Regions from separate parts of the Homo sapiens genome. Here all the other regions are linked to region 3. Evidence: fine-mapped expression QTL. A gene starts in region 3. Each other region holds a variant in brackets. All regions are shown on one strand. Distances are between the middles of the regions.

Region 1 (8,176 bases), 500 kb before region 3:
ACACAACCAGTGTTTCTTGCAGATTGGGCCATCTTCATCTGACCCAACCAAGATGAAGGAGGAGAAACCAGAAGAATTTCTGGTCACGGCTGCACTGACTAAGCAATAGTTAAACAGGTCCATTAAACTGCAGAACCACCATCAGTGTCAGAGACCAAGGGCTTCCGCCCAAAGATGGCGATCCCATGGGATTTCCCCCTCTCCTTTCAATTCTCAGTATCTTGGAGAGATGAGCCTCGGAGTTTTGCCCAGGATTTTACAAAAGGGCAAACTCCTACATTACCTTCTTTGGTCTGGGTTTGTCCTCTCTGGAGTCATGGGACTGTTGATAGATTTCCCTGTGAGGACATGCCAACCTGTGCTGTGAAATGGCTTTAGGGTAGATCCAGAAAAAGAAGAGCAGTCACTGCAGTCACACTTGGATTTCTCCCAGATCTTAAAGCACCTTATAAACAGAATGGCTGTACAATGTGTCATCTAAACCAGAATGCTTTGGATAGTAAGTGGTATGTGGTAGTATTCGTAACTACACTAAGGCAACAGGACTATCTCAGGCAGTCCAGGGCAGATGGTCACCCCTCTTTTCCACCCAAAGACTGTCAGGTCACTTGTCTTAGGAGCTGTCTACGCAGAGCTACAGATGAAGCCAAGTAGGACCTGCCTTGTTTGGTGTTTTTCCAGAACCTCTCACCTTCTGACTATATTATTCTCCCAGCCTGCTGCCAGTTACTTGGGCTTGGTCTTAGATAGCACATTTGCAGATAAAGAAGACTTGAGGGATGAGGAAGGGCTTTGGGATTGAGTTGAGTCAAAGGTGATGCTGGGGTTACCCACCATGCAAACAGGAACAAGCCTGATGTTGAAATGACAGAAAAATCAGTAAACATCATCAATACTTGGGACATCCTTAAGGCAGAGATTCTCATTCTGCAGAGGTTCTCATTCTGGCTGACCTCATTTATATAACCATATCTAGACTGGCCCGAGCTGGTCAGCAGCACCCACATCTGCAGAGACAATGCAGTCAGAGCTCATCACCAATAAATTATCTGCTAGGGGTTCTAGAAGGAGGCTTGGCACACTTAGGGGCTTACCTGCTTCTCAGGACTCTCACAAATGTCTAACCTTTTCAGTATCTTTATGTTCTCTCTGTGCACTCTATTTCCCAACACTTCTGGGTTGGTATTTGATGGCTGCTAGGAATGAAGTGGGGCCTGTTACAGGCAGGAAGTAGGGCCCCTGTCCTCCAGCTTCCAACTTTGTCTGCTGCTTCCTCTGGCATCTTTTCTTCTCTTTCCTCCCTCATCAGCATCCTGATGCTACATCTTCTCTCTCCTCTCCTGTGGTGAAACCCTTCTTTTCCGCATTGATCCCAAGTGAAGAGGACCTGAGTGTGAGGCTGAGGAAAGAGTAAGGGAATGTGTCTGGCTTAGCTCTGCTCATCATCCCAGAGAAATTAGAGATCCAGTCTGGGCTGGAGATCTTCTTGTCCATCCTTCCATCCATCTGTCCATCCATCCATTCATTCATTCACCCATCCATCCATTTGTTCATCCATCTGTCTCTCCATCCATCCATCCCTCCCTCCATCCATCCATCCATCCATCCGTCCATCCACCTGTTCATCCATGTATCCATCCAACCATTCACTCAGAAGACATTTATTGGGGCCCCACTCTGTGCTGGTCTCTAGGTTCTGGGAATACAAGGAAGCCTATAATTTGGATCCTGACCTCAAGAAGTTTACTCATCTAATGGTCTAAAAAAAGAAAAAAAAAATCCAGCCCTAAACTTGCAGTTTGAGTCTCAGCTCTGTCATCTATGATTTAAAATACTAATGATGGCTGGCGCAGTGGCTCATGCCTTAATCCCAGCACTTTGGGAGGCCAAGGCCAGCAGATCACTTGAGGTCAGGAGTTCAAGACCAGCCTGGTCAACATGGTGAAACCCCATTTCTACTAAAAATAGAAAAATTAGCCGGGTATGGTGGCATGTGCCTGTAATCCCAACTACTGTGGAAGCTGAGACAAGAGAATCGCTTGAACCTGGGAGGTGGAGGTTGCAGTGAGGCGAGATCCAACCACTGCACTCCAGCCTGGGTGACAGAGTGAAACTGTGTCTCAAAAAAACAAAAAACAAATAAAATACTGTTGATAATGAGGAATAATTATAATTATTAAGCATTTACTACCTGTCAGGTACTTTACACAATTGTCCCCTTTAATCTTCGCAGTAGCTGTATGAAGTAAGGACTATTTTTACCCCCTGCTTTGCATGTGAGGAGACCAGGGCTTACAGCAGTAGCTAACTTAGTAGCTTTGTGACCATGGCCTAGGCCTCAGTTTTCCTCATGTGTGAAATGGGAGGTTGGACTAACTCAGTATTCTCCAAAATTTCCACTGAGGTACCTCTGACAGCAAAGAAGTAAATGTAAGGAACCCACAGTGTTGTCAGAATCAATCCACTCCCAGTCCTTGAAGTCTTGGGGTTTATTGCAAAAATTTATTTGAATTTTGCATTCTCCTTGGCACATAACTGTATTTGTCTTCATAAAAAGATAATGTTTAAAATGACTCACTGGCCAGGCACGGTGGCTCACACCTGTAATCCCAACCCTTTGGAAGGCTGAGGCAGGTGGATCATTTGAGTCCAGAAGTTTGAGACCAAGTTTGGCAACATGGTAAAACCCAGTCTCTACAAAATATACAAAAATTAGCTGGACATGGTGGCATGCTTGTAGTCCCAGCTACTAGGGACGCTGAGGTGGGAGGATCGCTTGAGCCCAGGAGGTAGAGGTTGCAGTGAGCCGTACTATACTCCACTGTACTCCAGCCTGGGTGATAAAGTGAGACCCTGTCTCAAAAAATAAATGAATAAATAAATAAAATTACTTACTGTTCAGAGAAATGGAGTTCTTAGGAAATGTATCGTGCTTGGTGGGTAGTATCTCTGTGGGCCCCTGGGAATATGACTAGGCCCGCCTACCCACGTGGGTGATCTGCAAGGCTCTCCCTGGCTCTGGCACTGTTCGGCTGTGCCTAGGCTAGGATGAGGCAAGTCAAAGGGGGCTTGTGGAATAAGGCCCAGCATTTGCTTTCAGTCCCTGTATTCATGTTTTCTAAGGAAGATTCCTAGAATCTCTCAGGGTTTGCTGGAGAAATGAGCTTGGCAGCCAGAGGCAAATGAAAATCGGAAAAGGCAGTGTATACATGTTATAAGAATAAAATGCTTAGAGGCAAGAAAAGGAGAAATCCATTTAGAAAGGAACAAAATAAAAACTCTAGGGGGTTCCTGATCCAGAAATCTCTTCTGATTTTCAGGCTGAAATTTACACTGTGAAGCTCCAGGGGAGCTTGAAAGGTGATATTCAGAAATGCACTGGGGTGGCTCAGGGTTGGGTCCTTAAGAACACTGTGAAACAGTCTAGATAGGTTTTTAAATGACCACTTCCTCTTCCCCTCCCCTTGGCCTGAAATTGATGTAAGGTCACTTCCCTCCTGCTCCCTCTGCAGCCACTGCCTCTGTCCCAAACAGGCAAAACTGTGGAGTGGCTCTCACAGCCAAAGTGTGGGGAGGGGAAAGCAGGAGGAGCTGGGGACTCAGGGCGGGAGCAGGCGGCAGGGAGCTCCCGGGCAGCTGGCTGTGCATGGCTCCACTGTTCCGAGCCTGACAGGCTCTAGGGAAGTGTGGCCACAGGGAGCTGGCTGAAGGCTCAGGAGAGGCTTTTCTGACAGGCCCAGTTCCAATCACGCCAGCTCCTAATCTACTGATCAGTTTGCTTTCCTCCTGCTTTAAAATCTCTTTCTCCCTGTTCTCCTGGTCCCTAGCCACACCACCTTCACTGCTCTGATCTTATCTATGATCACCTGGCCAATCTACTTAAAGCAGTGAAGTAGACTGAAAATAACCAGACTTTCGGCAAAACTCTTTTTTTTTTTTTTTTTTTTTTTTGAGACGGAGTTTCAGTCTGTTGCCCAGGCTGGAGTGCAGTGGGGCGATCTATGCTTACTGCAACCTCCACCTCCTGGGGTCAAGCGATTCTCCTGCCTCAGCCTCCCAGCCTGGGACTACAGGCATGCGCCACCACACCCAGCTAATTTTTGTATTTTTAGTAGAAACCCTGCAACACGGCGTTTCACCATGTTGGCCAGGCTGGTCTCAAACTCCTGGCCTCAGGTGATCCGTGCACTTCGGCCTCCCAAAGTGCTGGGATTACAGGCGTCAGCCACTGCACCCGGCCTTGGCAAGACTCTTGACTCCTCTCCTCCATCAGGGTCGATTATATTAAATTACACTGACAGAAGAAAGGATTGGATGACTTTTGAAGAACTATTTCAACCCAAAGACAAGCTAAGGAAACATTGAGTTCACTCACCTGGAAGGTCTTGGAGGGCAGGAATTGTAGCTTACCCTCCTTTGTAGCCACACAGAGCCTTACATGGAGTAGGTGCTCAGTATTTTATGAATGTGTGCGTGGATAAATCCATAGTTTGCAAGAAACCACGAATAAGCTTGCCACCTGCTGGTGAACTTGTGAAAGACACCTCGCCGCACCTCGGCTCCCCCAAGTGGCCATACACTGTAATCCTAAGAAAACCCTCAG[C/T]TTGGACAATCCTTTCTTTCCAAGGAGCCCTTTGTTACAGGAAGTCCCAATCCAGACCCCAAGAGAGGGTTCTTGGATCTCACGCAAGAAGGAATTCAGGGCAAGTCCATAGAGTAAAGTGAAAGCAAGTTTATTAGGAAAGTAAAGGAATGAAAGAATGGCTACTCCATAGACGGAGCAGCCCTGAGGGCTGCTTTTTGCCCATGTTTATGCTTATTTCTTGATTATGTGCTAAACAAGGGGTGGATTATTCATGCCTCCCCTTTTAGACCATATAAGGTAACTTCCTGACGTTCCCATGGCATTTGTAAACTGTCATGGCACTGGTGGGAGTGTAGCAGTGAGGACAGGTCACTCTCGTCGCCATCTTGGTTTTGGTGGGTTTTGGCATCCTTCTTTACTGCAAGCTGTTTTATCAGCAAGGTCTTTATGATGTGTATCTGGTGCTGACCTCCTATCTCATCCTGTGACTTAGAATGCCTTAACCGTCTGGGAATGCAGCCCAGTAGGTCTCAGCCTTATTTTACACATCCCCTACACAAGATGGAGTTGCTCCAGCTCAAACACCTCTGACAACTTGATACTTATTCATAAATCCTTTTGACTCTAACTCATATCCTACATTCTTAGCAGAGAAGCCAAAAATGTCCTAGGACACTAGTCAGTGAAAAAGGCCTTTGAAAGCCCTGGAAGCTGTTTTGCAACTCAGGACCCTCTCTTCTCCACTGGTAGATGTTCTCTCCCCAAGATCCCTTTCCCTATCCTTCACGCATCCAGACAGAGAAAGCCTGTATTGAGCACCCACTATGTGCCAAGCACTGGGCTAGGTGCCGAGAGATATGAATGGAGAATGGAGACTTTACAGGGAGGGGAGAGCTGAAGTGTGCACCCAGATGTGGGAGAGGAGACTGGCACAGGAAGAGCACCGGGAGTTCAGACAGGGAGAGAACTCCATTGTGGGGATCAGAGAAGGCTTACATGGGAGATGACAGGCTAATGAGCTGGGCCATAAAGGGTGGTTAGGCTCATAATGTATGGAGATGGACAGCATTCTGGTTACCTATTGCTCTGCAACAAACCACCCCAAACTTGGTAGTGTAACAGAGCGGTCATTTGTTTTTCTCTCTCATGGTTTTAGGGTTTTCCCAAGCTCAGCCGATTGTTCTTGCTGGGATCTCTCCTGTGATTACAGTCAAATGAGAGCTGGCTGGATTCTTCACTGAGTCTCCCTTACTCCTGTGGCTGGAGGCTGATGCTGGCTGTCAGCTGGGACCTCAGCTGAGGCTGTTAGCCAGAACCCCTACATGTGGTCTCTCCATGGGGCCTGGACTCTCTCACAGCATGGTGGCTGGTTGCAAGGAGAAGCATCCCAAGAGATAGCAGGAGAAAGTTGTCTTGCCTTTTGAAAACTGGCTTCGCAAGGCCCATAGCAGATCTTCCCCTGTGCTCCACTAGTTGAGACAGTCACGAAGCCCCACCCAGTTTCAAAGAAGGGGACAGAGACTCCATTTCCTGATGTGTGAGTGGCAAGGTTCTGGAAGAGTATGTGGAATGGAAAGCATTATTGCAACCATTTGGGGAAAATACAACTTGCTGCTGGCAGGAAGGTCATTTCAGGCAGAGATCTTCATTGATGGTACCTTCAGAAATGCATTTTTAGGAAAGAAAGTGGTTTTTACAGACTTGGCATTGCTAAGGGAAAACATAAGGTTTTAGAAGTATTTACTGAGCCATCTTCACCAAGACTTATGAGAAACATTTCTTCGAAGAGAAGATGCTGAGGAAGAGGAAGATGACTTTTGAAGTGGACTCCAAGGGGCAGACAGGAGGCTGGGATGGATGGCAGCTCACAGCTGGCAAAGGCAGTGGACTAGCAATCATGGGTGAAGGCCTACCAAGACTGATTCTTAGAGGGGGGAGAATTGACTTTGTGTTCTTATAGCAAGTGACCAGGAATAACCAGATGCTGTGTCCAAGCTGAGTCCTCAAAAACAGTAGTAGGCAGGGGCCAAACCAGAAAGCAACAGTTAACAAAAACTGTATTGTAGCAAGAGAGATAAGATAAGCACACAAGTGTAACCACCCAACGGGTTCACCTTGTCTGCTGCCTAGACAGAGCCGATTTATCAAGACAGGAGAATAGCAATGGAGAAAGAGTAATTCACGCAGACCCGGCTGTGCAGGAGACTGGAGTTTTATTATTACTCAAATCAGTCTCTCCGAGCATTCGGGGATCAGAGTTTTAATTTGGCAAGTAGGGGCTTGGGAAGTGGGGAGTGCTAATTGCTCAGGTTGGAGATGGAATCATAGAGGGTCGAAGTGAGTTTTTTGTGCTATTTTCTGTTCCTGGGTGGGATGGCAGAACTGGTTGAGCCAGATTACAGTTCTGGGTTGTGTCAGCTGATCCACCCAGAGTGTAGGGTCTGCAAGATATCTCAAGCACTGATCTTAGGTTTTACAACAGTAGTGTTATCCCTAGGAACAATTTAAGGAGGTTCAGATTCTTCAAGCCAGAGACTGCGTGACCCCTAAACTGTAATTTCGAATCTTGTAGCTAATTTGTTAGCCCTGCAAAGGCAGACTGGTCCCCAGGCAGGAAGAGGGTCTTTTTGGGAAAGGTCTATTATTAATTTTGTTTTAGAGTCAAATCATGAACTGAATTCCTTCAGGGCAAAGTTATTTCCACCTATGCCCAGGAATGAACAAGGACAGCTTAAAGGTTAGAAGCAAAATGGTTAGGTAGGTCTGATTTCTTTACTGTCATAATTTCCTCAGTTATAATTTTGCAAAGGCAGTTTCACAAGCAACCACAAGGCATAACAGCTATCATTTGGGGGTAATACAGGGAAGCAGGGAGCAGTCATCATGCATGAGCAAGAGCTGGGTCAGAGATAAGACACAGCCCCAGGTTAGAAGGCAGCTTCACAGAGATGAATAGGGAGTGAGATCAAGGACCACAGCAGAGGTTGACAGCCCAAGGCCCTTGATGGCACTATGACCTGAATGTCCAGGATCTTCCATGTCAACCACCAACTTTATAGGAAAGGGTGCACGAGCCAGGAATAATGGTGGTCAAGCTTGGCTGTGTGGGAAATAGGGAGTTTGCCTGCCTGGCAGCTGCTGAGTGTCTCAGTAGTGAGCTTCCAGCTACACAATATCTGGACCCTGAGACCCAAAGAGGAAGGAGACTTTGGCTTCCTTTACTATGGGCATTCTGTGACCCACCCTGGCAATGAGAAGGACTAAAGAACTACAAGATATTAAATCTACCTTATGTTTTTCACTTGCTTATGAGCACTGGAGCTCCATCACCTGAGCCCCCACTAAGTGCAGATGTATGTGACTTTAGAAAGGTTAGATTTACTCTTCATAGCTCAGGGTATAAAGAAGTGGTCCCAATAAAAGTTTCCTTTGCTACAGGGGGCTGAGGACAATCATGAGGTTGTGAACTCTTTGAGGACAGGATTAGATCTTGGTCAATATCTGTATGCTCAGTGCCTAGGGTAGCATCTAGTTCATGCAAGGAAGGAAAGGAGAGAGGAAGGAAGGAAGGAAGGAAGGAAGGAAGGAAGG
Region 2 (8,176 bases), 73 kb before region 3:
ATCCTTATCCATATTCTCTCTTTTGAGTCCACTATTCACCACAGTGAAATCATTCTTGCCAAGGTTCCAATGGCTTCCATCTTACCAATTACTGTGATTGATTCTCTGTCTCACCTTATTAAACCTCTCAGCAAGAATGGATGTGGTACAGTACTCTCTCCTTCTGGAAATCCTTTCTCACCTGATTTGGTGAAACCACTCTGAATTTCCTCTACCTCTCAGTCTCTTCATTGGCTCCTTCTCCTCTGCCAACACCTAAATGTAGGTATAATGAAGGGCTGGGGCCTCAGCCCTCTGCTCTCCTCCATTCACATTTATTCCCTAAGTGATCTCTTCTAGGCTCATGGCTTTCAGTAGCATCCACAGACTGATGAATCCCAAATTTAATCTCCCATCCCCTCTTCCCACTGAGCCCCAGACTTTGAGTAGGGGAGAGATGTGATCTAATTTATGCCTTTAAAAGGCTCATTCTTCCAGCTTTCAGATAAACAGACTGTAGGAGGGCAAGAGTGCAGAAATGAGACCAGTTAGAAGGGTGTTTCTGTCTCTCAGGTGAGAGCTCAAAGATGGTTTGATGAGAAATGGAAACTGGCTGACGCATTGGGGGAAAGGGAAGAGTCGGGGTGATCCGTACTGCCTAAGCTATTTGGTGAATTTGATGTCCTTTTTTTTTTTTTTTTGAGACAAGATCTGGAGTGCAACCCCTGTCAACCCAACATTTCCCCTTGGGGGTCTACTAAGCACAACAAACTTAACTTGTTCAAATCAGAATTCTTCACCTCCCAAAACCACTCCTTCTCTGCTGTTTCCCATGGCAGTAAAGGACATCAAATTTGGCCGGTCATGGTAGTTCACACCTGTACACCTGTAATCCCAGCACTTTAGTTTTATTTATTTATTTATTCATTTATTTATTTATTTTTGACAGTCTCACTCTGTCACCCAGGCTGGAGTGCAGTGGCATGATCTTGGCTCACTGCAACCTCCACCTCCTGGGTTCAAGCGATTCTCCTGCCTCAGCCTCCCGAGTACCTGGGATTACAGGTGCCCACCACCACGCCCAGCTAATTTTTGTATTTTTAGTAGAGACAGGGTTTCACCATGTTGGCCAGGCTGGTCTTGAACTCCTGATCTCAAGTGATCTGCCCGCCTCAGCTTCCCAAAGTGCTGGGATTACAGGCATGAGCCACCACACCTGGCCAATCCCAGGACTTTGGGAGGCCGAGGTGGGCAGATTGCCTGAGGTCATGAGTTCGAGACCATCCTGGCCAACATGGTGAAACCCCTGTCTCTACTGAAAATACAAAAAATTAGCCGGGCGTGGTGGCAGGCGCCTGTAATCCTGGCTACTCAGGAGGCTGAGGCAGGAGAATCACTTGAACCCAGGAGGCGGAGGTTGCAGTGAGCCGAGATCACACCATTGCACTCCAGACCTTGTCTCAAAAAAAAAAAAAAAAAAAAAAAAGACATCAAATTCACCCAATAGCTTAGGCAGTACTGATCACCCCGACTCTTCTCTTTCCCCCAGTGCATCAGCCAGTTTCCATTTCTCATCAAACCATCTTTGAGCTCTCACCTGAGAGACAGAAACACCCTTCTAACTGGTCTCATTTCTGCACTCTTGCCCCCCTACAGTCTGTTTATCTGAAAGCTGGAAGAATGAGCCTTTTAAAGGCATAAATTAGATCACATCTCTCCCCTACTCAAAACACTCCAATGACTTAGAATAAAAAGTCATGGCACTTAGAATAAAAAGTCAAACTCTGCTGCCCTAAAAGTCCCCACATGATCGGAACCCTGCTTACTTCCAAGGCCTCGTCTCCTCCAGGCTCCTTCCCCACTCCTCCTGCTCTAGTTTTGGGGCCTGGCTTTTCCTCTGACATGCTAACCCTGCCCCCACCCCAGGGCCTGTGTCTTTGATGTTCCCTCTGCTTGGAAAGCTTTTCCCCACATCTTCCCAAGGCTAGCTCCTTCGGTCCATTTAGAATCTGCTCAAATGGGCCAGTTGTGGTGGCTCACACCTGTAATCCCAACACTTTGGGAGACCGAGGCTGGTGGATCACTCAAAGTCAGGAGTTCGAGACCAGCCTGGCCAACATGGTGAAACCCCCTCCCTGCTGAAAAATACAAAAAAATTAGCTGGGTGTGGTGGCAGACACCTGTAATCCCACCTACTCGGGAGGCTGAGGCAGGAGAATTGCTTGAATCTGGGAGGCAGAGGTTGCAGTGAGCCAAGATTGCGCCACTGCATTCCAGACTGGGCAACAGAGTGAGACTCTGTCTCAAAAAAAAAGAATCTGCTCAAATGTCACCTCTTTTGGTAGTGAAGACCCTGACTACTTTGTTGGAAGTGGTCTCCCATTGATATGTCATATACTCTTCCCTTAACTGACATTACTCTTTTTTAGAAGATATATGTCATATGTTACATGTTATGTGTATGCATGCTACATATGATCTGCATATGGAAATATATATATTGTCTGTCTCACCCATTAAAATGTAACCTTGGCCAGGTGTGGTGGCTCATGCCCGTATCCCAGCACTTGGGAGGCCAAGGCAGGAGGCTCACTTGAGCCCAGGAGTTCAAGACCAGCCTTGGCAACATAGGGAGACCCCAGTATCTACAAATAATTTAAAAATTATCTGGGCGCGGTGGGACACACCTGTAGTCCTAACTACTTGGGAGGCTGAGGCAGGAGGATCCCTTGAGCTCAGGAGTTTGAAGCTGCAATGAACTGAGATTGCACTACTCTACTCCAGCCTGGGCAACAGAGTAAGATCCTGTCTCAAACAAACAAACAAAAAAAAACAAAAACAAAAAAACAAAAAACACAGTGGCTCATGCCCGTAATCTCAGCACTTTGGGAGATTGAGGTGGGCAGATCATTTGAGCCCAGGAGTTCGACACCAGCCTGGGCAACATGGTGAAACCCCATCTCTACTAAAAATACAAAAAAATTAGCTGGGCATGGTGGTGCACAACTGTAGTCCCAGCTACTCTGGGGGCTGAGGCGGGAGGATTGCTTGAGCCCATGAGATGGAAGTTGCAGTGAGCCAAGATCATGCTACTGCACTCCATCCTGGGGAACAGAGTGAGATCCTGTCTCAAAAACAAACAAACAAACATAGACTGTAACCTCTATGAGGGCAAGAACCTTGTCTCTCTTGTTCACTACTCTATCCTGGCATTTAGAAAGTACATAATAGGAACTCATTAAAGAGCTGGCAAATTAATGATTTAATGGAGTCCTCCTCCCTCCTTGTAAACATAAAGCATGATTCATGAATTCTGTGTATAAAACGAATGAAGAGAATGGGAATGGGAGGAGCGGATAGGAGTGAAGGGAAGGGAGGAAACTAATGTTCATGGGCCTTTACTACTAGGTTTCCAACCCAGCACTCTGCTTAGTGCTTTATGTGGATTATTTTGCTGAAACCTCATAACTATCCTATGACTAAGCATTGTAATTTCCTTTTTTTTTTTTTTTGAGATGGAGTTTCGCTCTTGTTGCCGAGGCTGGAGTGCAATGGCACCATCTCAGCTCACCACAACCTCTGCCTCCTGGGTTCAGGCAATTCTCCTGCCTCAGCCTCCCGAGTAGCTGGGATTACAGGCACGTGCCACCACGCCCGGCTAATTTTGTATTTTTAGTAGAGACGGGGTTTCTCTATGGTAGTCAGGCTGGTCTCAAACTCCCCACCTCAGGTGATCTGCCCGCCTCGGCCTCCCAAAGTGCTGGGATTACAGGCATGAGACACCGCGCCCGGCCGTAATTTCCATTTTATAGGTGAGGAAACTCAGGCTCCAAGACGTGAAGTCACTTGTTTGGGTCATTCAGCCAGCAACCAGCAGAGCTGGATCTGCACCCAGGTCTAGCTGGCCCCTGAGGAGACTATTCTAACCACTAGACTCATATAGTCTGCACTCAGAGCTTCCCTGGGAATTTCTGCCTGAGGATGTAGCACCTTTCACCTGCCAGTCTCAGGGACAGGGGTCCTGCCAGCCCTGCCGGCTTGATCTCAAAGGAAGGCCTATTGAAGTAACAATCAGAAGGAGCCTGTGGGCTGTCCATGAAAGGGTGGTGGAAGGGTGTGGGAACAGGAGGTGCTTCTATTCCTAGCTGTTTGTAAACAGCATCCCGACAACCCGGCTTGTTCTTTCTGCAGTGGGCCCCAGGGACAGCTGAAGCCAAGTTCTCCCAAAGCAGCCTTGGCTTTTCTGAGCTTGTGCTGGGGTGGAAGCCTGCAGACAAGGAGAATCCACCTCAAAATCTTCTCCTAATCTCCTTTCACTCTGTCTTTTTCCAACCCAGCAACTCAGTTTGGGCCCCTGAGCCTGTGACATAAAATAAATTAGGCAGAGGCTCAAAGAAATCAGGCTGCTGGGGCCAGGCAGCGAGTAATTACATAAGCCCTGCCTCCCTGCTTTCCTTCCTCCCCTTCCCCTCTCTCTTCATCATTCCTTCACACTCACTGATGGTTTTTTTTTTTTTTAATTTCGTGAGAGATAAAATAATGTTGATTTGGCAGATATACAGGTACAAACTCTGAAGAGTTTAGAGTGAGGAAAGAAGGTCTCTCGTGATGTGCCAAACACTTTCAATGCCTCATCCTATTTAATCTTCACTATAACCCTTCAAGGATGATTTTATCATCCCCACTTGACAGGTGAAGTAATTGGGCCTCAAGAAGCTATGTTAATGAGATAGCATCGATAAAGCCTTTGGCTCCAGAAGGCACTCAATCAAGTTAATGTTCTTTCTTCCTTGGGTAACTTATTCCAAGTCACTGGATCAGTAAGGGGCAGGAGCAGAATTCAAACCTGGACCTATCTGATTCCAGACACCCCTGGGCTTTCTGTCTCACCGCACTGCCCAGACACTAACAAGCCATTGGGAGAACTGATGAACCGAATGGAGACCACTGCTCTTTTGCTGGTTAAACAAAAGTGGTCCAATAAATAAGGAAGGGCCTGATCTGGAAAGGCCTGCATTCTATGGCTCAGGATATTCCTGTTTATCCAACTTGGCAGGCATGTAAATATTAGCGTC[G/A]CCACTCCTGTCCCCCATGCATGGCGCTGTGTGTTGTTCCTCTGCTCCTGCTGTGTGTGTGTGTGTGTGTGTGTGTGTATACACATGTGTGTAGACTGCCTATCTCTTGGTGTGCTTCATTCAGGCTCTGCACACTCTGGGCCCAGCTGTAGATATGCTGACACGGTCTGACAAAGATACTCTAAAGTCTCCTGGGGGAGAGAAAGAGAGACTGAAGGAGGATAGACAGATAAGACCGGGGCTTTGTCCTCACCTTCTTGTCCCAGCCTGGGGACCATGAAGCTCCCAGAATCCCTGAAGCCTCCAGCCTTCTCTGATGCTGGGAGCAACCTCCCCTTGGTTAGTGGGACTCAGACCCCACCTCTTAACCATCTATATCCCGCTCTCACTGGTGAGCCATCTTATTTTACAAGTGCTCCTTGGTCCTGTCCATCTGTCCTGCCTCCCTCTTGCATTTTCCATCCAGCCAAGCTCTTTTTTTTTTTTTTTTTTTTTTGAGATGGAGTCTTGCTCTGTTGCCAGGCTGGAGTACAGCGGCACGATCTCGGCTCACTGCAACCTCCATCTCCTGGGTTCAAGGGATTCTCCTGCCTCAGCCTCCCGAGCAGCTGGGACTACAGGCATGCGCCACCACACCCAGTTAATTTTTGTATTTTTAGTAGAGATGGGGTTTTACCATGTTGGCCAGGCTGGTCTCGATCTCTTGATCTCGTGATCCACCCGCCTCGGCCTCCCCAAGCACTGGGATTACAGGCATGAACCACGGCACCCGGCCTAACCAAGCTCTTATACCTACTGTCCCAGTAAGGAGAAGGCAGGCACCCAGAGGGCAGCACTGAGGGTGGGAGCAGGCACTAATGCCTCACTTGCTCAAAGTCTTTTTTTTTTTTTTTTGAGATGGAGTCTTGCTCTGTCAGCCAGGCTGGAGAGCAGTGGCTCGATCTCAGCTCACTGCAACCTCCGCCTCCCGGGTCAAGTGATTCTCCTGCCTCAGCCTCCCAAGTAGCTGGACTACAGGCATGCACCACCACGCCCAGCATTTTTTTTTTTTTTTTTGAGACGGAATTCTGCTCTTGTTGCCCAGGCTGGAGTGCAATGGCACGATCTCGGCGCACCGTAACCTCCGCCTCCCGGGTTCAAGCAATCCTCCTGCCTCAGCCTCCCTAGTAGCTGGGATTACAGACATGTGCCGCTATGCCTGGCTAATTTTGTATTTTAATAGAGAAGGGGTTTCTCCATGTTGGTCAGGCTGGTCTTGAACTCCCAGCCTCAGGTGATCCACCCGCCTTGGCCTCCCAAAGTGCTGGGATTACAGGTGTGAGCCACCGTGCCTGGCCATTTTTTTTTTTGTATTATTAGTAGAGATGGGGTTTCCCCATGTTGGCCAGGCTGGTAAAATTCTTTTTTTTTAATTTAATTTTTAATTTTTTAGAGATGGGGTCTTGCTATGTTGCCCAGGCTAGTCTCGAGCTCCTGAACTCAAGTGATCCTCCTGTCTCAGCCTCCCAAAGTGCTGAGATTACAGGTATTAGCCATCACACCTGCCCTCAAAATTCTTTAAATATTATATACATACAGAAGAAAACGTATAATAACAATATTTAAAACAAACACCTGTGGATTGTACCACCTAGTTTAAGAAACAAGCAGTTGCTTTTTCAAACTCTGGATGGAGGCAGTTTCAAATTTCAGGGCGAGATTTTAACAGTCTAACCCTCTCCGGTGCCTGCTTTTGCCTCCCTGGGTCAACAGGCCCCCGTCACCTCTTCTGCCCTCTTCACCCTAGCCTCCAGGGCTATTTTGGGTGTGTACCAGTTGGGGTTAATCTCCTTAAGCATTGAGCCGTGCTGCTCAGTGCACTCCTGATAGGTCCCAACCCTCTGCAAAGGGCATTCTGAGGGTTAGGCCGCCGGCCTCGGGCCTTCCCGGCCCCGTAGAGATACCATGGACACTGAGCTGTGAACTAGAACCGATGGGGGAGGGGGCTGCTGAGGCTGTGCAGGCAGTGGGAGTGGAAGGTCAGGAGGGCTCAGGCCCAGCAGCCGCTATTAGTAGGTTGCTTCGGGTTTGCTTCTCGAGTTTACCTCTAGGGAGAGCTTTCCTCCACCCCCACCAGCTCAGCTGCCCTGACCCTGGCTGGGTACAGGCGCTAATCCCCAGCCCCTGCTAACACCAGGGAGAAGGGAGGGGGAGGCAGGCTGGAGATTTTCTTTCCCACTTGGGAAGGAAAGAGGACACACAAGTTGACCGGTTGGGATCCGGTTCCTGAAACCTGAGACAAGGACAAGAGTTTCACTGAACCGTTGGCTACAGCTTGCCCAGGGGCTTTGTCTTCTACCTGGGCTGAAGGAGAGTTCCCGGATGATTAGGGCGGAGCTACACTGGCTGACAGGTCTGGCCCTTTAAAGGGAGGGAGAGAAGCTGGGGTCAATTCTTCCAAGTCCCACCTCTACCCTCCCCAATCCCCTGCTAACATTCACTCAACAAACAGAGGCTGAAGGCCTGCTGTGTGCTGGGCCCTGCATTTGCATTTTGCCCTCCAAGTCCCACAAGCTGGTGAGTGAGACAGCCCAAGAAAACAGATGATTATACAAAAGTCATGTCCCAAGGGCTTTGGTACAGACTGGTATTGGAGCGCTCAGACAAGGTGCCTGACCTTGAGGGAGTCCTGGAAGACTACCTGGAGGAAGTGGTACCTGAGACAGGCAGAACAAATAGGAGTTGACCTGGAAGAGGCAAGGGTGGAATATTCATGAAAAAGATGGTAAACAATCAGGAGGATCTCTGGAATATCCCATCCCTTGGAGGGAGACCCTGGAGGGAGAAGCAGGCCAAGGGCCCTCTGGCAGCCTAGACTCACTTTGCACAATAGCCAGAGTATGCATCTTGGGGCTGTCCTTCTGGGGAAAAGACAGACCTTAAGACTGTCTTAAGGCCAACCTCCCAATGTTGGTTTCTTTCTTTCTTTTTTTTTTTTAAATTTTATTATGAAAATTTTCGAACATACATACAAAAGTAGAAAAAATAATATAATGAACACCCATGTAGACCCATCACCCAGCTTCAACAATTGTCAACTGGTGGCCAATCTTGTTTCATCTATATATACCCCCACCCAGATT
Region 3 (8,176 bases):
GATTTCCTGGCCTCAACATGGGGACCTAAACAGTTAGCAATCTGGGTTTGGGAGTGGGATGAGGGGAGGGTTGGAAGAAATATTTAGTGTGTTTCATTTGCCTTTCTTAAATACAGGGCACCCCTGAAACAGGCTTTGTTCGCAGCTCTGCTCTGTCCTCGGATTTAGGTTATCGAACAGGCTTCCTCCCTCCCCTGCACAAGGGTTGGGAATGAGTCGATTTGCTTTCACTCAGCAAGAGCAAGGGACTAGTGGTGACCAAGTGGTAGACTGGAGAGGCCTCTGCCCCGTGGCACACAGCTCCACCATCAGAGAGGGTGATGTGGGTCATAGGTGAGGGATCTGGAGGCCCGGTATCGGAAGAGCTTCTCCAGGCACTGGCATTTTGACAGCAAACTGCTTCCGTGGCTCTTTCAGGACTGTTCCTGGCAATATGTTATTGGCAAGGACTATTTTAGGGCTATCCAGTTGTCTCCCCCTCTCCCCAACCTTTTATCTAGCTTATCAGTAGCTATCTTTCCTTGCTCTGTACAAAAACCTATAGCACCAATAGGCCCAGTAATCATGAAGGGTCAGTGCAAGGAAAGGCTGGAAGCCCTTCCTCTAACAGCCGTGCTGTGACTCCACTAACTTTGTGGGGTCTCCCATTACATAGCGTGGGTATCCTGAGCTGTGCAGCCTGCCTCACTCACCACCTTGGTACCTGACAGGACTACTGGATGTGCCTGTCCTTTTGTAGGACATTCTCCCATCCCAAAGATGAGGCTGTGCTGCCGTGTGGGCAAGCTCTGTGGGGAGAGGGGAGGCCAGTGGGTTGTTTTTGCCATCACAGAATACTGGGAAGCCCCTGGCATCCTGCTCCATAGCTCTCTTCACCACTATCCTGGAACCTTCTCCCCACCCCCATCCCCATGCCTCCAAGGCACTGACCTCAAATCCAAGTCTTTCTCACTTATCTCAAGCTGCCAGCCTGTAGGGATTCCTTATCTCAGCTCCATGTCAGCGGTGAGGAAGCCCCAAGAAGGCAAGGGAGCTGACAGCCTTCTCATTTTTCTCGTACATCCTCCTGTTCACCCCGCCATCCCGGGAGCCCCAGCCAGATGCTCTTCAGGGCAGGGAGCACGTGAGCAGCCCTGGGGCTAGAAGCCGGTTCTCCCACATTCCTGGGTGAGGGACTGGGTGGAGGGTGTGCCTGCCTCAGGCTCCTTGGGGGAGGCCCCCTGAAGGGCTGGGGAAAATCCTACTGAGCCCCAGGCTCTCCTGCCTGCACTGGCCCAGTGCGGGGGCGGGGGGGCGGGGGGATCCTGGACATTAACTCTCTCCTAGGCACCTGGGAGCTTCAGAGAGGAAGAAGGTAAGGTAAGAAGCAGATTCTCTGCGCAGGACTTTCTTAGTCCTCAGGCTATAGAGTTAAAGAAAGAAGTATCTGTAGAAGGTGGAGTCACCTTTTGTTTGAGTAACCGTTTCACCCACCCTGGCTGAGGGTGGCCAGGAACTCCCCAAGTTGTGCATTAATGGAGGGGGGTCACACAGATCCTACATTTTTTTGTTTTTGTTTTTTTTTTTTTGAGACGCAGTGATTACAGGTGTGAGCCACCGGATCCTACATTTCAAATGCATAAAAATCTAGATATGGGCTGGGCGCAGTAGCTCATGCCTGTAATCCCAGCACTTTGGGAGGCTGAGGCAGGCAGATCATGAGGTCAGGAGATCGAGTCCATCCTGGCTAACATGGTGAAACCCCGTCTCTACTAAAAATACAGAAAGCCGGGCATGGCAGCGGGCGCCTGTAATCCCAGCTACTCGGAAAGCTGAGGCAGGAGAATCGCTTGAACCCAGGAGTCAGAGGTTGCAGTGAGCAGAGATCACGCCACTGCACTCCAACCTGGGCGACAGAGCGAGACTCCACCTCAAAACAAAATAAACAAAATACTAGATCTGGAAGAGATCTTAGGGATTATTAAATTCAGACAACCTCATTTTTTATAGATGGGGAAACAAGCACAGACTCCAAGGGTCTCATCCAAGATCACACAGTTGCAGATGCTGGCTACAAGTCTCCTGCCTCAACCACCTGTATTACCCCATTCAGGGTCTCAAGAAGGGTCTATAAGACACTATCCATTGTGTTTCGGGCTGAGTCCATAGAGACAACCACAGACATGGGGGACTCTGCCCACAGGGAAGGCAAGGGCTCTGGCCATGGAGCTGGATGGGAAGACTCTGAAGCCCGAAGACATTGAATCCTGTGCAGGGAAAGAGCGAGGGTTTTGTGTACAACACACCTGCATACCTGGATGTGAATCTCAGCTCCACCCCTTCACCAACTCTGTGTGGCCTGGGCAAGCCATTCTAAGGGAACCCTCCACACTGCAACTTTCATGTCTATAAAATGGGAATAACCATGCATTCCTTACAGGACTTTTTTGGTGTGAGGATTAAATGAGAGAATATGTTGAAAAGTGCTTGGTAAATATATTAATACTATGCATTCCCTCTTCTTTGAATGACGTGACCCAGGTAGTCAGGCTTCTGACCACTAGAGGGCAGCAGAAGGTACTGGAAAACTGGGCCGAGTGAACCAGAGATTAGATGGGGTCCAGAGAGCAGGGATGAACTTACCCGTGTGGATTCTGGCAACTCCGGCAGGGAGGGCTCCAGCAGGCGCTGAGGGAAGAACTTTCAAGCAGAGCCGGGTCTCTTCAGGAGCGACTGCAGCAACCCTGATGCTTGGATGGAGTCCAGGCAGGTGATGGTAGTGAAGACCTTGCCAACAGAGTGGGCGCTGGAGAAGGAGCCCTTTAGTGGGGACCCTGGGGCCACGACTAGGCTGGCAGGCCCAGCCAGCACCAATTAATCCATGAGTATTGCCCAGCATTGAGCCTGGAGCACCTTCCAGCCCCTGGCCAGAGTCCTGGGTGTTCTGGGAAAAACCCCTAAACCTAGTAACTCCTCTCCCTACTAGGCCTCTTTGTTGCTGAATCTCTGGAATTTAGGGGCCAGCAGCTTTCTGACTCAGGTCAGCCAGGGGTTCATGTTCCCTCACTTGCCCTCCCCCTGCCTGGCCCATCTCTGGCCTGGCCCCTGGGAGGAATTTCCTGGGCCAGAGGGCAGCCGAAAGCACAGATGCCCACCCCAGCAACGTTCCCGCCACCTGCCCAGGCCAGTGCCCCGTGCCCAACCCCAGAGGGTGCGGGATGACAGACTCTGACAATCATTAAACCAGCCGGGCCTGATTTCCCAGCACTGCCTGCTAAGATCCGGGCCAAGTGGCACTGAATATGCAAATCACCTGGGGCCAGGAGCCCAGTCTAAAGGCCAGGAAATCCCCTCCATCCAATGAGACACCAGCTCAGGTTACTGCAGGGGACACACTATAAAGCCCTGAGCTCAGGGAGGAGCTCCCTCCAGGCTCTATTTAGAGCCGGGTAGGGGAGCGCAGCGGCCAGATACCTCAGCGCTACCTGGCGGAACTGGATTTCTCTCCCGCCTGCCGGCCTGCCTGCCACAGCCGGACTCCGCCACTCCGGTAGGATTCCCCGCCTGTCATTCCCTAGCCCAGCTCTTGGGAAACTGCAGAGGGGTCCAGAGGATTTGCAGTTCTGAACCTGCACACTCCAGTCTAGGATCTCCGAGCAAGAGCGTAGGTGTCCTGAGGGTCAAAGAACAGAGAGAGATTGTCTCTGGGAAGGCAGAATGGCCATGACGCCGCTAGTCTGGCTCCAGGGCCCCAGAGATCTGAGGAGGGAAGCCCAGCTGGAGGCTCCTGTGGTCCTGCCCTGGTCTGAGATCTTGGAGCCCTTCTTGAAGAGACGGTGTCCGCAGAGTTGCTGATCTTCCTGCCCCTGGGGGCTACTCTTGCCCAGGGTTGGGCAAAGCAGAGTAGCTGGGAGTGTAAGGAGAGGACCCTCGTCCCCTCACCAACCTCATCCTCTCTCCCCCTACCCACAGGTAGCCTCATGGCTGCAACCTGTGAGATTAGCAACATTTTTAGCAACTACTTCAGTGCGATGTACAGCTCGGAGGACTCCACCCTGGCCTCTGTTCCCCCTGCTGCCACCTTTGGGGCCGATGACTTGGTACTGACCCTGAGCAACCCCCAGATGTCATTGGAGGGTACAGGTGGGTCTCAGCGGGGTGGGATGGGGCACGGAGTGGGAGACAGATCCATCTAAGGGCCTGTTAGACAAATGGGGGAATAGGCAGGGAGGAGGGTCTCTAGGCAAATTCCAGGGCTAGAGGCTGAGACTTAGTGACTGAGGTGCTGGGGGTTGTGGGGCTGTGACAGGCAGAGGGAGGTGTCAGATACCAGGACAAGGGTGTTGTGAATGCTACCTCCTGCCCCTACTCTTGGGATGGCTCCAAGGGCTGAGGTGTGAATCCCCAGTGTGCTCCAGGAATGGGGCTGTGTGGGCTGGGAGTGGTGGCTCACGCCTGTAATCCCAGCACTTTGGGAGGCTGAGCTGAGCGGATCACCTGAGGTCAAGAGTTCGAGACCAGCCTAGCCAACATGGTGAAACCCCGTCTCTACTAAAAATACAAAAAAAAATTTATCCCAGCGTGGTGGTGGGCACCTATAATCCCAGCTACTGGGGAGGCTGACGCAGGAGTATCGCTTGAACCTGGGAGGTGGAGGTTGCTGTGAGCCGAGATTGTGCCATTGCACCCCAGCCTAGGTGACAGGAGTGAGACTCCATCTCAAAAAAAAAAAAAAAAATGGGGCTGTAAGGTCTGCTGGGTGGCCTGAGCTGAGCCTGTTTCCCTGCCTGGCCCTTGCAGAGAAGGCCAGCTGGTTGGGGGAACAGCCCCAGTTCTGGTCGAAGACGCAGGTTCTGGACTGGATCAGCTACCAAGTGGAGAAGAACAAGTACGACGCAAGCGCCATTGACTTCTCACGATGTGACATGGATGGCGCCACCCTCTGCAATTGTGCCCTTGAGGAGCTGCGTCTGGTCTTTGGGCCTCTGGGGGACCAACTCCATGCCCAGCTGCGAGACCTCAGTGAGTCCAGGCCCCTGGAGGCTGGGGAGCAGCTCCACATGTTGAGCTGAGTCGAGTTCAGTGTGGCCGTAGGCAGGCCCTGGAGCTCTGGGCCAGCTGCACAGCCAGAGAGAGCCCTTGAGGGAGGGATTAGGGGAGTGTGACCCTTCCTTCCTTCCTTGTCAGCTTCCAGCTCTTCTGATGAGCTCAGTTGGATCATTGAGCTGCTGGAGAAGGATGGCATGGCCTTCCAGGAGGCCCTAGACCCAGGGCCCTTTGGTGAGAACCCGTTTTCTCCTTCCTTCCCCAGCCTGTCTTGTCCCATCCCTGCCCCTCCACAGAGTGCTAGAGATGACCCCCTCCCCAGACTTCTTCCTCCCTCAATTAGAAAAATTGCAGCAGGTCATCAGACCCATGGGCAGCATCACCTGTCCTGGTCTGGTCCCCTGAGCCCTCTCTGAGTTCTCACCTCCTCTTCCCAGACCAGGGCAGCCCCTTTGCCCAGGAGCTGCTGGACGACGGTCAGCAAGCCAGCCCCTACCACCCCGGCAGCTGTGGCGCAGGAGCCCCCTCCCCTGGCAGCTCTGACGTCTCCACCGCAGGTGAGAGCTCTCTCTGGGCCACAACCTCCCTTCCCCGAAGTGTCCCTTGTTCCCTCTGGCTCCCAGCACCATAACTCAGGCCTTCTGGCAGGAACAGGAACAGGCTGGGAAGTGTGTCCTGAGAGCCAGCAGCGTGGTTGAGCAGAGGGTGGGCCGGCAGGGGACTTACTCTGACCCCGCCCCCCAGGGACTGGTGCTTCTCGGAGCTCCCACTCCTCAGACTCCGGTGGAAGTGACGTGGACCTGGATCCCACTGATGGCAAGCTCTTCCCCAGCGGTGAGTCGAGGGAGGTCCCCAAGAGGGCGTCCCATTTAGCAATGCACAGGGGGCCCGGCTCTTCCTGCAGCCTTTTCCTGTAGAGGGGCTACTCTCCCTAACTCCCCTCTTGCCCCTCCTTGACCTTCCACCACCGTCCCCACAGATGGTTTTCGTGACTGCAAGAAGGGGGATCCCAAGCACGGGAAGCGGAAACGAGGCCGGCCCCGAAAGCTGAGCAAAGAGTACTGGGACTGTCTCGAGGGCAAGAAGAGCAAGCACGGTGAGCTCCGGGGGCACGTGGGTCCTCCCTGCGCCGGGCTGAGCGGCTTCCTGGGGCACTGCGGGTTGTTGCAGGTATCCCTTCTCCCGTTTTCTCTGGCCTCCGCATGGCCTTTGGTAAGGCTGTGCACAAGCTGGGGGCTCTATGGTATCGGTCACCACCTAATTGCAGAGCCTGGCTTGGTGGTCCTGGAGAGGAGGAGGAAATAAGGCTCCCAGTGGGAGGCTCATGGTACCAGAGTCCTGTCCACTGACTCCAGTGTCCTGTCCACTGACTCCAGTTCTCTCTGCACTTGGCCACTGTCCTGCCCTCTGGGACACCCTCAATGTGAGGAGGCAGCTGGTGGGTCTTAGGTGGGCTGAGGAGAAAAGCAGTCACTGCAGTACCCGCACAGAGGGCACTGCGGGGTCTCTGGAGAGGCTTGCTGCATGCTGTGGCCAAGTCAGCAGTGCACTGGGGCGGGCAGGGCTGGCTGGCCTTGGGTGAGAGGGGACACCTGGATGGCAAACTGATGGAGGCTGGCCTTGCAGCGCCCAGAGGCACCCACCTGTGGGAGTTCATCCGGGACATCCTCATCCACCCGGAGCTCAACGAGGGCCTCATGAAGTGGGAGAATCGGCATGAAGGCGTCTTCAAGTTCCTGCGCTCCGAGGCTGTGGCCCAACTATGGGGCCAAAAGAAAAAGAACAGCAACATGACCTACGAGAAGCTGAGCCGGGCCATGAGGTGAGCTGGCGGCCAGGACCCTCACGATACAGCCGGACATGGGGACAGGCGCTCACACTCCCACCGCCCTCTTTCTGGCTGCCACTTGGCTTCTTGCAACAGGGCTGAGTCCTTAGAGTGAGGACAACATCTGGGTTGGTCTACTTCATGGATTAAATGACAACATGGAGAAAGTATTAGCCTGGCAGACAGCAGACACAGTGCACTTGAGCTAGCAGCAACATTTCTTGTATCGCCTGTGAGGCTTGTCCTCAGGAAGGCACCTGGAGAGTGGGAAAGGGGGCAGGAGCCGTGCCCACCCAGGGCCTGGCTTTCTCCTCGTTGAAGCACTTAGGTTGTTTTTCTCTGGGCCTCAGTTTCCTCCTGTGTCCAGGAGTACACTAGATCATCTTAAGATCCCGTCCAGCCCTAAAATCATGTACTTACTTTTTTTTTCTTTTTCTTTTTTAAATAGAGGCAAGGGTCTCTACGTTGGCCAGGCCGGTCTCAAACTCCTGGCCTCAAATGACTCTCCTGCCTCGGCCTCTCAAAGTGCTGGGATTACAGGTGTGAGCCAGTATGCTTGGCCTTTTCTTTTTTCTTCTTCTTCTTTTTATTTTTCGAGACAGGGTCTCGCTCTGTCACCCAGGCTAGAGTGCAGTGGCACAATCTTGGCTCGCTACAACCTCTGCCTGCCGGGTTCAAGTGATTCTTGTGCCTCAGCCTCCAAGTAGCTGGGATTACAGGCACCTGCCACCATGCCCAGCTAATTTTTGTATTTTTAGTAGAGACGGGGGTTTCACCATGTTGGCTAGGCTGGTCTCGAACTCCTGACCTCAAGTGATCCGCCCGCCTCAGCCTCCCAAAGTGCTGGAATTACAGGTGTGAGCCACCGTGCCCAGCTCCCTGGCCTTAAAAGTCATGTAATTTAATGATCAGACCCCAGTCACAGCCATAGGATACAAAGAAGCAAAGGCAAAGAGCCCTGTGTCCTGGGCACGGTTACAGGCCAGTGTAGGGAAAGAGCTTCTGCTTGCCAGTGTGAAGAACAGAGGAGTTTAGGAAGTGTGAGTCAGGCTCAGCTTAGTCAGGCAGAGACCAGTGGGCATGGGTTACCTGGGGGTAACGCGGGCCAGGTGGGCGGGCTGGCAGCCTGGGGCCCATTTCCTGCCAAAGCACCTCTGACCATCCTTCTCTTCACCCAGGTACTACTACAAACGGGAGATCCTGGAACGGGTGGATGGCCGGCGACTCGTCTACAAGTTTGGCAAAAACTCAAGCGGCTGGAAGGAGGAAGAGGTTCTCCAGAGTCGGAACTGAGGGTTGGAACTATACCCGGGACCAAACTCA

Direction of the effects. Positions count from the first base shown, and alleles are read on the strand shown. Sizes are in standard deviations (SD) of each study's normalised expression. Not every link is listed here.
With allele T in place of C in region 1, the expression in coronary artery of the gene that starts at base 3,410 in region 3 is higher (large effect, 1.6 SD a copy in GTEx).

Evidence for each region.
Region 1: its variant is fine-mapped to the expression of ELF3 in coronary artery (GTEx, PIP above 0.99).
Region 2: its variant is fine-mapped to the expression of ELF3 in whole blood (TOPMed, PIP 0.98).

Annotation. Positions count from the first base shown.
Region 1 is chr1:201,508,603-201,516,778 of GRCh38, forward strand. All of the region lies in intron 1 of CSRP1-AS1 (CSRP1 antisense RNA 1), which reads left to right. LOC124904484 (a long non-coding RNA gene) reads right to left here. Exons shown (of 2, transcript XR_007066793.1): 2 at 1,122-1,399. Among named protein-coding and RNA genes, the nearest start is that of CSRP1-AS1, 5.5 kb to the left of the region's middle. RefSeq lists a silencer at 3,384-3,463 and an enhancer at 3,614-3,823. The variant C/T (reference allele first, on the strand shown) is at 4,604.
Region 2 is chr1:201,934,656-201,942,831 of GRCh38, forward strand. The region is part of intron 1 of LMOD1 (leiomodin 1); the gene reads right to left. Among named protein-coding and RNA genes, the nearest start is that of LMOD1, 7.8 kb to the right of the region's middle. RefSeq lists an enhancer at 6,796-7,745. The variant G/A (reference allele first, on the strand shown) is at 5,055.
Region 3 is chr1:202,007,178-202,015,353 of GRCh38, forward strand. It overlaps ELF3 (E74 like ETS transcription factor 3), which reads left to right and starts at 3,410. Exons shown (of 9, transcript NM_004433.5): 1 at 3,410-3,529; 2 at 3,952-4,122; 3 at 4,780-5,001; 4 at 5,167-5,259; 5 at 5,463-5,582; 6 at 5,770-5,859; 7 at 6,005-6,121; 8 at 6,652-6,847; 9 at 8,032-8,176. The coding sequence starts at 3,960. The coding sequence ends at 8,146. It overlaps ELF3-AS1 (ELF3 antisense RNA 1), which reads right to left and starts at 3,176. Exons shown (of 2, transcript NR_146472.1): 1 at 2,623-3,176. RefSeq lists enhancers at 1,008-1,649, 3,376-4,309, 4,310-5,244, 6,054-7,253.